4 linked regions of the Homo sapiens genome follow. The protein of the gene in region 2 interacts with the protein of the main gene of each other region in a biochemical or structural test. Each region holds a gene or a part of one and is shown on either strand. Other genes may lie near its edges.

Region 1 (3,509 bases), on a different chromosome or scaffold from region 2:
GCTTGCCAAGAAACTTAGGAAGGAATCTCAAGAGCATACAAAAGATCTAGACAAGGAACTAGATGAATATATGCATGGTGGCAAAAAAATGGGATCAAAGGAAGAGGAAAATGGGCAAGGTCATCTCAAAAGGAAACGACCTGTCAAAGACAGGCTAGGGAACAGACCAGAAATGAACTATAAAGGTCGATACGAGATCACAGCGGAAGATTCTCAAGAGAAAGTGGCTGATGAAATTTCATTCAGGTGAGCATTTGAATTACAAATAAGTACTTGACCAGATGGCTTCTATTTACAGGAAATAAAATGAATGCCAAATACTTTAATGATATGTTCCTTTTTTTTTTTTTTTTTTTGGAGACAGGGTCTTGCTCTGTCACCCAGGCTGGAGTGCAGTTACTCACTGCAACCTCCGCCTCCTCGCTCAAGGGATTCTCTTACCTCAGCCTCCTGAATAGCTGGGACCACAGGTATGCACCCCCACGCCCAGCTATTCTTTGTATTTTTAATAGAGACAGGGTCTTGCCATGTTGTCCAAGCTACTCTCGAACTCCAGAGCTCAAGGGATCCACCCGCCTTTGCCTCTCAAAGTGCTGAGATTACAGGCGTGAGCCATGGGCTGGCCTAATCTATTTATTTATTTATTTATTTGAGAAAGGATCTCACTCTTGCCCAGGCTGGAGTGCAGTGCTGCAATCACACCTCACTGGAACCTAGAACTCTTGGGCTGAAAGGATCCTTCCACCTCAGCTTCCTGAGTAACTGGGACTACAGGCTCAGGCCATTATGCCTGGCCAATTAAAAAAAAAAAATTATGGCCAGACAGAGTGGCTCATGCTTGTAATCCCAGCACTTTGGGAGGCTGAGGTGAGTGGATCATGAGGTCAGGAGTTCAAGACCAGCCTGGCCGACACAGTGAAACCCCATCTCTACTAAAAATACAAAAATTAGCTGGGCGTGGTAGTGGGCGCCTGTAATCCCAGCTACTCGGGAGGCTGAGGCAGGAGAATCACTTGAACCCGGGAGGCGGAGGTTGCAGTGAGCCGAGATTGTGCCACTGCACTCCAGCCTGGGTGACAGAACTAGACTCCATCTCAGAAAAAAAAAAAAATTAGGAGTTTCACTGTGTTGCCCAGGCTGGTGTCAAACTCCTGGGAACAAGCAGTCCTCCCACATTGGCCTCCCAAAGTGCTGGGATTATATGCATCAACCACTGCGCTGTCCACAGATTTTTTTTTTTTTTTAAGAGATGGTCTTGCTCTGGTCACTCAGCTGGAGTGCAGTAGCACAATCAGAGCTCATTGAAGCTGAACTCCTGGGCTTAAGCAATCCTCCTGCCTCAACTTCCCAGATTGCTGGGATTATAGGTGTGAGCCACTGTACCTGAGTCTTTGAAAATTTTTCTTTAAGGAACTGGGATAATTTGGTTATATGAATACATTCGTAATGTATTTTTCTGTTGGTTTTTTGTTTATGAGACAGTCTTGCTCTGTCACCCAGGCTGGAGTGCAGTGGTGGTATCCTGGCTCACTGCAACGTCCCCTCATGAGAATTGCTTGAACGTGAGAGAGCCACCTGAGTAGCTGGGACTATAGGCATTCGCCACCACACCCAAATAATTTTTTTTTTTTTGTATTTTTAGTAGAGATAGGGTTTCATTATGTTGGCCGGACTGATCTCGATCTCCTGGCCTCAAGTGATTTGCCTGCCTTGGCCTCCCAAATGCTGGGATTATAGGCGTGAGCTGCGCACCCACTGTGTTTTCTTAAATTTGGACAAGCCTGATAGAATAATTTTGTAGACTTTTATGAACTGTTAAACAACTTGTTGCATTTAGTGCCATAGAGCTTTTTAAATAAAGCATATATTTTTAAATCATGGGTTGTTTTTGTTTGTTTAGTGTTTTCAAGAATTTGTGACTTTTTTCTTAACTTTGAGGTATATTTTACAGATAATATTCACCCATTTCTAGTGTTAATTTTTTTAGGAAACATATCAAGTTGTATAACCATCACCTCTGAAACATTTCTGTCACCCAGTAAGATCCCTTATGTCCACATGCCAGTTTATAGTTAATCCCTGTTCTCATTCCCAGATAACTGCTAATCTACTTTCTGTCTATAAATTTGCCTTTTTTGGATATTTCATATAAATGGTGTCATGTAGTATGTAATCTCGTGCCTTGCTTCTGTCAGCTAATGTTATGTTTTTGTTTGTTTTTGTTTTTGTTTTTTTGTGTGTGTGGTTTGTTTTTTTGATTGTTTGTTTGTTTGTTTGAGACAGAGTGTCACTCTGTTGCCCAGGCTGGAGTGCAGTGTCACGATCTCAGCTCACTGCAACCTCCGCCTCCTGGGTTCAAGCAATTCTCATGCCTCAGCCTCGTGAGTAGCTGGAATTACAGCCATGTGCTACAACGCCCAGCTAATTTTTATATTTTTTAGTAGAGACAGGGTTTCGCCATGTTGGCCAGGCTGGTCTCGAACTCCAGACCACCTCAGCCTCCCAAAGTGGTGGGATTAGAGGCGTAAGCCACTGTGCCCAGCCAATGTTGTGTTTTTGAGATTGATCCATGGTGTAGCAGGAATCAATACATTTTTATAGTGTGTGTATATATGCATATATTCATATTGAATATTCTACTTTTTGGCTATCATGAATAATGCTGTTATGAACCTTCACATCCAGATCTTTAAACACATATTTTCATATCTTTGTTTTCTTTTGTTTTGTTTTAGACAGAGTCTCACTCTGTTGCCCAGGATGGAGTGCAGTGGCATGATCTCAGCTCACTGCAACCTCCGCCTCCTGGGTTCAATCAAATCTCCTGCCTCAGCCTCCCTAGTAGCCGGGATTAGAGGCGTGCGCCACCACGCCCAGATAATTTTTTTTTTGTATTTTTAGTAGAGACAGGGTTTCACCTTGTTGACCAGGCTGGTCTCAAACTTCTAACCTCAGATGATCCACCCCCTTCGACCTCCCAAAGTGTTGGGATTACAGGCATGAGCCACCTCACCTGGCCATATTTTCATTTCTTTCAGGTAAATACCCAGAAGTAGAATTGCTTGGTGTATGGTAAATTTACAATTCATGTATTTTTACCAAGTTCAGATTTTGAATTAACATTTTCATTAGCTCTAAATTACTAATGAACAGTGTCATAAATTTGAAAACAGATACGGTTCAAGAGTAATGCAGGTGGTAGGAAAACAAGTATTTACTTTCCAGGCAAGCCTATCTGAACACCAGTACTTGATTTTTAAAATACTGGGGAAGTTTGGAATTTGAGTGCTGGAAAGAAACTTAGAGATGTTGTAAACCAAAACCTTCATTTCACAGATTAATATTAGACCTGGAGTTAAACCCTGATCCTTGTGTTCCTAGTCTATTTCTCTTTCCACAAAAATGCACTGCCTCCTGTTGAGAAGAAACAAAGGGTGCCAGGTCTGAATTCTTTTTTTTTTTTTTTTTTTTTTTTTTTGAGACGGAGTTTCACTCTCGTTGCCCAGGCT
Region 2 (3,509 bases):
TCTCACTATGTTGACCAGGCTACCAGGCTCGTCTCAAACTGCTGGCCTCAAGCAATCCTCCCACCTAGGTCTCCCAAACTGCTGGGATTACAGGCATGAGCCACCATACCCAATCAGAAAAAAACTCTTAAGATCAGGCAACTTATGTTCTTATACATGCACCAAAAAGACAAATCTTTTCAGAATCAGCACAGAGTAATTTGGTCGTAAGTCTACAAGAATGAAATCATGCCAGCCTATATCAGAAATCCTAAACAAGCAGACATTTGCAGCATAAAATAAGTCACTACATTACCTAGGCAGCAAACGTGACAAATTCAGAACCTTTCTTTTAAAAGTTATGAGGTGAGATGCCAACTACAAAACAAACTATGATTATTTAGACTTTCTTTGTTCTAGCTGATGAGGTAGAAGTACCTACATTCAGATTCTCAAACAATTTGTCTTATAAACCACAAGCCATTTTTTAAATGGGTCAAACAGCCAGGCATGGAGGCTCACGCCTGTAATCCCAACACTTTGGGAGGCCAAGGCAGGCACATCATTTAAGGCCAGGAGTTTGAGACCAGCCTGGCCAACGTGGTGAAACCCCGTGTCTACTAAAAATACAAAAATTAGCTGGGTATGGTGGCACATGCCTGTAGTCCCAGCTACTCGGGAGGCTGAGGCAGAATTGCTTGAACCCAGGAGGCAGAGGTTGCAGTGAGCCAAGATCACGCCACTGCACTCCAGCCTGGGTGACAGAGTAAGAATCCGTTCTCCAAAAAAAAGAAATAAATAAAATAAAAAAGGGTGTTCCATAGGGGTGATGGGGAGGATGAAACGTCATCAAACAAGTTTAAGAAACATCAAGTTAGGCCGGGCGCAGTGGCTCACGCCTGTAATCCCAGCACTTTGGGAGGCTGAAGGGGGCGGATCACTTGAGGTCAGGAGTTCGAGACCAGCCTGGCCAACACGGTCTCCACTAAAGTGGAGATGGCCAACATCTCCACTAAAAATACAAAAATTAGCCGGGCATGGTGGCGGGCACCTGTAATCCCAGCTACTCAGGAGGGTGAGGCAGGAGAATTGCTTGAACCCGGGAGGCAGAGGTGGCAGTGAGCCAAGATCATGCCACTGCACTACAGCCTGGCTGATAGAGCAAGACTCCATCTCAAAAAAAAAAAAAAAAAAAAAAAAAAAAAGAAAGAAACATGAAGTTAAACTGATTGACCGTCTAACTTCCCTAACCCTTTAAAATAAACTTATATACATTATGATTTCCAGGATGAAGATATAATAAAGGGTTTCTTTTTTTTTTTTTTTCCTGAGACAGAGTTTTGCTCTTGTTACTCAGACTGAAGTGCAGTGGTGCAATCTCGGCTCACTGAAACCTCCACCTCCCGGGTTCAAGCGATTCTCCTGCCTCAGCCTCCTGAGTAGCTGGGATTACAGGCACATGCCACCACACCTGGCTAATTTTTTGTATTTTTAGTAGAGACGGGGTTTCACCATGTTGGCCAGGCTGGTCTCGAACTCCTGACCTCAGGTGATCCGCCCGCCATGGCCTCCCAAAGTGCTGGGATTACAGGCGTGAGCCACTCTGCCCGGCTGGGTTTCTAATTTATCTGACACCCAAGCCCATGGAAATGTCTTTCAGATATTCTGAAACACACTAAGCCACACAGGCCTTACTCTAAAATTATCCCCTACCCTCATCTTTACTAGCTTATCAACTATTAGGATGATCTAACATTTCCTTTGCCCCTATGATGAACAGAGCAAATAAACAGCACGAATAAAATAGCAAAATAAAAAAACACTGATATCCATAGAACTATCCTTTCAAGTTATAAACCAAACTTTACACATTCTAAAATCTAATCACTTATTTTAAAATCTTGTTAATCTTAAACCCTATAATAAAAATGTTTTTTAGGCAAGCAAGTGATATGAATGTATTAATTCCATTTCAGAATTTATCTAAAACTGAGTTCTTCTCCAATAGTATTCAGCTAATGAAACAAATACTAGTAAAGTTGTAATGAAAATCCCTGAAACCAGAGATAAGTGTTATTCAAGTAACATTATTCTTTCACTTCCCACTCCTCTTCATCTGCTTTTATATAGATTAAAAACAAACTAAAAATATTACAAATACTCCTAAACTGTCTTCCAGCAAAGCAAATGAACCATAGCTGAAATCTTGTTTATGCTTTCTTCTACTAAATTTATCCTCTTTTCTCATACCCCTTAACACTAATTAACATAATATTCTTTTATTCCACCTCCATCTCCCTCTGGTTTAATCATCTGTTCCTCATTTGATCTGTTCTCAGACACCTCTCCTCCTTCCACATGGAGTAATGAATTGCAATAATCTTTTTTTTTTTTAATTTTTTGAGACGGAGTCTCAGCTGTCACCCAGGCTGGAGAACAGTGGTGCATCCCCGCTCACTGCAGCCTCTGCATCCCAGGTTCAAGCGATTCTCGTGCCTCAGCCTCTCAAGTAGCTGGGATTACAGGTGCATGCCACCATGGCTAATTTTTGTATTTTTAGTAAAGACGGGGTTTCACCATGTTGGCCAGGTTGGTCTTGAACTCCAGCCCTCAGGTGATCTGCCTGCCTCAGCCTCCCAAAGTGCTGGGATTACAAGCATGAGCCACCGCACCCAGCCTACTGATAATCTTTCAATTGAAAAGGACGTAGATGGCTTCAAATGGCCACTTAAGACACAGAGAATGGACACAGGTAATAAACACAGGTGTTCCTGAGACACTGATCCCCCAGCTCTCAGGGATAGTCCTGGAGAATTTCTCCTACACCATATAGTTAAAGAAGGAAAAAGGAAATATCAGAGAAATAAATTCAATCTGGCCCTTGAAAAATAACAGGCTGGGAGCCGTGGCTCACGCCTGTAATCCCAGCACTTTGGGAGGCCAAGGCAGGCGGATCACCTGAGGTCAGAAGTTCAAGACCATCCTGTCCAACATAGTGAAACCCCGTCTCTACTAAAAATACAAAAATTAGCCAGGCATGGTGGTGTGCGCCTGTAATCCCAGCTACTTGGGAGGCTGAGGCAAGAGAATCGCTTGAACCTGGGAGGCAAGGTTGCAGTGAGCCAAGATCGTACCACTGCACTCCAGCCTGGGCAACAGAGCGAGAATTCTCAAAAAAAAGAAAAGAAAAATAGCAATAATTTTTTCAGGCGGGTAGCTGAAAAAGATGATTTTGGTTCTTAACATTTTCCCTTGAAATTGGAAATATGATTTTAGCAAAGAAAGCAGAAAACATGTTTACATTTGACAAGCTAAATGCCAAGTCTGTATTTCACCTAAGTTTTCATAATGAATATGAATTATCCTAATCATATGCTTAGACCATTCCTCGTCACCACAATTAGTTTTCAATAAAATGTCACTTAAGTTCAAATGTATAATTAAGGCCCCGTGCTGTGGTGGCACATGCCTGTAATCCCAGCTACTAGGGAGGTGGAGGCAGGAGAATCACTTGAACCTGGGAGGCGGAG
Region 3 (3,509 bases), on a different chromosome or scaffold from region 2:
TCTTTTTTTAGACAAAGTCTTGCTGTGTCATTCAAGCTGGAGTGCAGTGGCACAGTCATAGCTCACTGTAACTTCAAACTCCCGAGCTCAAGCAATCCTTCTTCCTCGGCCTTCTGAGTAGCTGGGACTACAGGCATGCGCCACCATGCCTGGCTAATTTGTTTTTTCTTAGAGACAGGGTCTTGCTATGTTGCCCAGGCTGGTCTCAAACTCCTGGCTTCAAGTGATCCTTCTGCCTTGGCCTCTCAAAGCTCTTAAGATTATAAGACATGAGCCATCACTCCTGGCCTCATTTTACCTTTTAATTTTTTTTGTTTTTGTTTTTTTTTTTTGAGACGGAGTCTTGCTCTGTCACCCAGGCTGGAGTGCAGTGGCGCAATCTCGGCTCACTGCAAGCTCCGCCTGCCGGGTTCACGCCATTCTCCTGCTTCAGCCTCCTGAGTAGCTGGAACTACAGGCGGCTGCCACCATGCCCGGCTAATTTTTTTGTATTTTTAGTAGAGATGGGGTTGCATTGTGGTCTCGATCTCCTGACCTCGTGATCTGCCTGCCTCGGCCTTCCAAAGTGCTGGGATTACAGGCGTGAGCCACTGCGCCCGGCCTTTTTTTTTTTTTTTTTGAGGTGGAGTCTTGCTCTGTTGCCTAGGCTGGGTGCAGTGGCATGATCTCGGCTCACTGCAACCTCTGCCTCCCGGGTTCAATGATTTTTCTGCCTCAGCCTCCCCAGTAGCTGGGATTACAGGTGCATGCCACCACGCCTGGCTAAGTTTTAATTTTTGTTTTTAATAGAGACGGGGTTTTGCCATGTTGGCCAGTCTGGTCTCAAACTCAAATGATCCGCCTGCCTCCGACTCCCAAAGTGCTGGGATTACACGCGTGAGCCACTGTGCCCGCCCATTATCTTTTTTTTTTTTTTAATTTGGAGACAGAGTCTGTGGTGTCAGATGGAGCGAGCCTCTGTCACCCAGGCTGGAGTGCAGTTGTGTGATCTCAGCTCACTGCAACCTCTGTCTCCTGGGCTCAGGTGATCCTCTCACCTCAGCCTCCTGAGTAGGTGGGACTGTAGGCGCACGCCACCACACCCAGGTAATTTTTCTATTTTTAGTAGAAATGGGGTCTTGTTATGTTGCTGAGGCTGGTCCCAACTCCTGGGCTCAAGTGATCTGCCCACCCCGGCCTCCCAAAGTGCCGGGATTATAGGCATGGGCCACTGCACCCAGCATTGAAAAAATTTCTTTTGTAGAAATGAAGTTTCACTGTCTTGCCCAGGCTAGTCTTGAACTCCTGGGCTCAAGTAATCCTCCCACTTTTGCCTCCCAAAGTGTTGGGATTACAGGTTTGAGCCACCATGCCTGGCCTTAATCTTCTCAATATACTTTAAGGTTAACAGCTTTTAAAATTTCTCTTTTACAGCTGAGGAAACTGAGGCACAGAGAGGCTAAGTAACCAGTTCAAGGTTACATCACTGGGAATTGACTGGGCCTGGGCTTGTTTTTAGGACTTTCTGATTCAAAAGTCTTTTTTCCTTGCTTATTAAGCTATATTCTAATGGATATATATATATATATATATGGATATATACATATATGGATATATATATATATGGATATATACATATATGGATATATATATATATATGGATATATATATATATATATGGATATATATATATATGGATATATATATATATATATGGATATATATATATATATTTGAGACAGAGTTTTGCTGTTGTTGCCCAGGCTGGAGTGCAATGGTGTGATCTCGGCTCACCGCAACCTCCGACTCCCGTGTTCAAGCGATTCTCCTGCCTCAGCCTCCCCTGTAGCTGGGATTACAGGCATGCGCCACCACGCACAGCTAATTTTGTAGTTTTACTAGAGACGGGTTTTCTCCACGTTAGGCTAGTCTTGAAATCCCAACCTCAGGTGATCCGCCCGCCTCCGCCTCCCAAAGTGCTGGGATTAGAGGTGTGAGCCACCAGGCCCCAGCCTTTTTTTTTTTTTTTTTTTTTTAAGAGAAAAAGAAATTGCTGTAATATAGTCTCTGGTGTTATACTTGAAGCTATAATTTGAAGCTTCTATTTTCTTCTAGAGGTTTGGTTAACTTTAAGGTAATTTAAAATAATTACAAGTGAACTGAAAAAGCTGCTTTGTTTAGTGAAAGAGAATTAACTATAGGTGTATGCAGTAAGACTGAAGAAAGTAATATAATGTCAAGTGAAGAAGGCAAATTGCAGAAGTCTATATGAAGTATGCCTTTTTTTTGTATGAAACTCACAAGTGAGCGAAACTAAATGATAAATAGTTTAAGGGTGCTGCCAAGTGTGCAAACTATTCAAAAACAAGGGAACGGTAAAAGCAAATTTCAGAATGTCGGTTATCTCTTGTGGGACAGTAGAGAGGAAACAGGTAGTTTCAGTGGATTCATAAGTCAGATGGTGTGTTTACAAGTGTTCATTTTATTATGCTTCATAACACAGTATGTATGTTAGATATTCTTCATAAGAAAAAAGAATACAGACCAAGCATGGTGGCTCATGAGCTCATGCTCATGGTGGTTCTTATATTGAGAACCCTGTCTTTACAAAAACAACTAAAAAATTAAAAAAAAAAAAAAAGCTTTAAAGGATGCGTTTAAAGTGAATCTACCACATATCAAGTAATATTGAGGATGTTTTATATTACCTGAGGGACTTTGAATTGCTTTATATATATATCTAGTATCTAGTGAAAACAAATCTCATTTATTCAGTAAAATATTAAATTAGCCTAGGTTCATAAGGGTATTAAAGAATTTTTTTTTTTTTGAGATGGAGTCTCATTTTCGCCCAGGCTGGAGTGCAGTGGCATGATCTCAGCTCATTGCAACCTCTGCCTCTCAGGTTCAATGATCAGGCGATTCTTGATTCTCATGCTTAACCACTAGAGTAGCTGGGATTATCAGCGCACGCCATCACGCCCGGCTAGTTTTTAGTAGAGACAGGGTTTCACCATGTTGCCCAGGCTGGTCTCGAACTCCTGGCCTCAAGCAGTCCACCAGCCTTGGCCTCCCAAAGTGTTGGGATTACAGGTGTGAGCCACCACGCCTGACCTAGTATATTATCTTTACTCAAGTATTTTAGCTCAAATTAAACCTCTAGTATTTGTTACAAGGCTATTTAATTCTTAATAGCAACCTATCAATGTCTTATTTCTTGTAAATCTAAAGTAATTTTCAATTTTAGAGAGTTTTAAATTTGTAGATTTATAAATTTACTTTTAAATATTTTTTAAATAACCTTAAGTTATTTATATCAAGCATTTCCTTCACCCCACTTCCTTATTGTAAAAGGAACTTAACATTTATTCTTCTGTACTTTCTTTTTTATACTGTTGTTTTGCAGCAAGGGCAAGTATTTTGTAACCTTCCCATATCCATATATGAATGGACGCCTTCATTTGGGACACACGTTTTCTTTATCCAAATGTGAGGTAATGTTTCCCTATGTTTGCTATAATGGGGAGGAA
Region 4 (3,509 bases), on a different chromosome or scaffold from region 2:
CGTGTGCAGTTTAACAACACAATATGTGCAGGCATGAGTGGCTAATCCTATGTGAAAGTCAGCAGCTCTTTGGGTTAAGGGGATGGGAAAAAAAACTGAACTTCTGAAGCCTCCGAGTCAGGCTGCCTGGGCACATGTCCTAGTTCTGGCACTTAACACCTGTGTGACTTTGGGCAAGTTACCTCACCTTTACCTCAGTTTATCCTTTGTAAAATGGAGATAATATTATTTCCCTGAGGATTAAAGGAGTTAAAAAAGATTATGTACTCAGAACAGTGCCTGGCCCAGAGTAGCCACAATAAAAGGTTGAGGTTTTCAATGTTGCTTTTGTTTTTTTCCTAGGTACTTAATACTGGTTCTGTCATGTAATATTCATAACTATTCTTTGAGAGAGATAGTACAGTGGTCCCCAATTACCCGTGGTTTTCTTTTCCAGGGTTTCAGTTACCCATAGTCAACCATGGTCTGAAAATAGGTGAATATGGGGCATTTTAAGAAAGAAAGAGACCATATTCATGTAATTTTTATTACATTGTTATAATTATTCTATTGTTAATCTCTTACTGTGCCTACTTTACAAATTAAACTTTATAACAGGTATGTATGTATAAAAAACAACATAGTATATATGGGGTTCAGTACTGTCCAAGGTTCAGGCACCCACTGGGGGTCTTGGAACATATCCGTGGAGGATAAGGCAGACTATTATATTGCTCTTCTTTTCCAGATGAGAACACAGGCTCAGAAAGGTTTAGTAACGTGGCCAAGGTCACACAGCTAAATAGCAGAAGCAGGGTTTGAACTCAGGTCTTTTTGACCTTATACTAAATACCACACCCCCACCAATGGGGAGGAGGGGCAGAGAAGTTGTTAAATCTGATTTTTGTTATGACTTTTGGCCTCTGGCAAGGAAATAATTTCATATCACCCTGTATCTCACAGTTGAAGATGACAGTAATTGCCAGCCTTGAGGAACACTATGTAAATTATTTTATTATTAAAGATGATTCAATCCCACATATGTGGCATGAAAGTGGATCTAGCATGAACACTGCTAGGGTTAACATAAGCAGTTTAATTTATGCCATAAACGAAGAGATTTACTAGGTGAAAATGTGGGACTATATGGTGAGAAAGCAAGCCAAGCCACAGCCAGGGACAAGGACTTCTGGTGGCTGGGGATGAAGTGAAGCTCTAGCATAGACTGTGTGCTCGCTTCAAAATTCTGGGGAGCCCGGGGTTGCAGAGTCCAGTAACCACCTGTGGACAATCCCCTCCTTGAAGGCAGGAACCACACTACCTGGGCCTTCAGTCCCGGCACTCAGTGGACGTTTTAGTCCATGTTTGTTGATGATGTTGCTGCAAGAACTCAGCAGAAGAGGAGCTACAGGTAAAGTGAACAGAAAGGCACTGGGCTGTGTCCATGGCAGAAGTCAAGCCCTGTTACAGTTCAGCATATCCCCTGGGCCCTGCTAGATAAGAAACACACAACAAGGAAACCTTTGAAACCTTGTCCTTACTGCTTGCCCCGGAAAACCCACAGGGCCTGCCTTGGCCTCCACTGCTTTGATGCTCTGGGTTTGTGATTAGCTGTGGGGATCAGCTCCAGAGACTTCTCAGATGGAAACAGGGTTCTGGAAAGGACAGTCCGAAGTAACTCAGGTAGCCTCAAAGCCAATGGTTACAGTCTTGGAGCTGTCCAATTCCATTTGAAATCTTCTCCTGTCCCCACCTCTTAAAGGCTACAAAACAAAACAATACCCCACAAACCAGAATAAGTAGCCATGTAGTTCTAAAGCAATAGTCAGGTGTGTTTCTTTCCTTAAAAAAAAAAAAAAGCTTTCTCCTTGATATACTTCAGTGCCAAGTTTCATCAGAATCACATGATGATGGACTGAATTTGACAGTACCTCTGGTAGAAAAGCAGTTTTCAAATTTTAACCATACAGTTTTATAATACAAAGCATGATGCTGAGATTTAAAAGATTACTATTTCTAAATAGCCAAGTAAACTGTGTGAAAGCTGATGAGTTCCAAACTAGTGTTTGCTTAGTCCTTACTGCTTGCCTAAGTCATGAATTAATAGAATTCTAGAATCCCAAATTTAAAACTTTTTAAAAAGGATTTTCAGTGGATTGGGTTTTATTTCCATATTGGATAAAGTTATTATTAGCCTTCTAGCCTTTGGCCCTTTGTTAAACCATGTTGCAGAGATCACACACCTGCAATTAGGTAACAGGGTACCGCCTAAAGTGTACCTCGAGCCATGAATGTCATAAAAGTATTCTGTGGGACCCCAGTTTGATGAAGGTCCCTTTCTGCAGGACTTCTCAGAACATTTAAAAAGCCAGTGTATATAGTGAATCTCCACAGGGAGGTCGTGTCCAGAGTTTCTCAAATGGTTTTGCCCACTGAGCAGCTGCAGGACCAGCCTGGCAGGAAACACACTCTGGGAAACACAGAACAGAAGCTACATAACCGCAGTATGTCCTACAGAGCCGAAGCAACCCAGGGACATTTTAGTTAGAGAACCACAGGCGTTACAGGAAGAGAGCGATGAGGATGTACCAGGAGATCCTGGCAAACGCTGATAAAACTAATGGAGAATTAAGTGAGGGCAATCAAAAGGGGTGTCTGTGTGTAGAAATAGAGATTAAAAAAATACCAATTCTGGTCTTAGCTCTGACCCAAATTGTATAACCTTGACCTCTTGGGGTTTTCTTGTTCTCATCCCTAAAACGTAGCATTTGGTGAGAGATGATCTCAGATAATCTCTGGCTCCAGAACAGTGAGCCAGGATCAGTGGCACCTATTAGCATAGCTATCTTACTACTAATAATGTAAGACTCTGGGTTGAAAAACAGACCCGTGCAGATCTCTGGCAGAGCAGCCTGAGCAAGCGTGGAAGGCAGGGAACTTCCAAGTCAGGCCTCTATTTAGACAGCTTCCACATTTGGGAATCCGTCATGTTCTGGTGACAACCTGAAGGTCCTATTTGTAGACACATCATGCCAATGATAGATCGTTGTCATGAGTTTAGTTGAAAAAGAGCTTTTCTGTCCAAATACATCATAATCATTTAGGCTACATACATTTTTTAAAACAAGCAGAGGCATTTTTGGTGAAATGTGGCTTTGCCATTCAGAATGTGTTTGATTTCTCAACCTTTTTATTTATTTTTTAAACTTTTGTTTTGCCAAGGGTCAGTTCAGACTTAAAACATTGATTTTAACACAGCGGGAGATGAGGCTCTAAGCCTTTGGCTGACCAGCTAGTCAGAAAACAAATCCTTCCCCTTCTCTGGGCAGGCTCCATCCCATCACCTGTGAAAAAAAATGGCAGAGTGGGAGGGTGGGGATGGGAAGGGAGGCCAGAGAAGTGTGTGGATGTTCCCCAGGCCCTCTCCTGGCCCTAAACTGTGATTCTGTTCCTCTTTTTTCTTGTATCAGAGGCATTTCCATAGTGTCTTGTATCTTCTCCTATTGTAACACTTACTACATTTAAGTTAT

Evidence for each region. Proteins that work in one complex are often made in the same cells at the same time.
Region 1: the proteins of CDC42 (region 2) and PHAX form a complex in vitro, tested with the Homo sapiens proteins (one large-scale study listed by BioGRID).
Region 3: the proteins of CDC42 (region 2) and LARS1 form a complex in vitro, tested with the Homo sapiens proteins (one large-scale study listed by BioGRID).
Region 4: the proteins of CDC42 (region 2) and CDC42EP3 form a complex in vitro, tested with the Homo sapiens proteins (2 studies listed by BioGRID).

What each region holds. Positions count from the first base shown.
Region 1 is NC_000005.10:126,603,938-126,607,446, forward strand, and holds part of PHAX (phosphorylated adapter RNA export protein), read left to right. Parts: coding exon 1-246; intron 247-3,509. UniProt on the Homo sapiens protein: A phosphoprotein adapter involved in the XPO1-mediated U snRNA export from the nucleus.
Region 2 is NC_000001.11:22,059,208-22,062,716, reverse strand, and holds part of CDC42 (cell division control protein 42 homolog isoform 1 precursor), read right to left. Parts: intron 1-3,509. UniProt on the Homo sapiens protein: Plasma membrane-associated small GTPase which cycles between an active GTP-bound and an inactive GDP-bound state. In active state binds to a variety of effector proteins to regulate cellular responses. Involved in epithelial cell polarization processes.
Region 3 is NC_000005.10:146,172,651-146,176,159, reverse strand, and holds part of LARS1 (leucine--tRNA ligase, cytoplasmic), read left to right. Parts: intron 1-3,385; coding exon 3,386-3,473; intron 3,474-3,509. UniProt on the Homo sapiens protein: Aminoacyl-tRNA synthetase that catalyzes the specific attachment of leucine to its cognate tRNA (tRNA(Leu)).
Region 4 is NC_000002.12:37,665,143-37,668,651, reverse strand, and holds part of CDC42EP3 (cdc42 effector protein 3), read left to right. Parts: intron 1-3,509.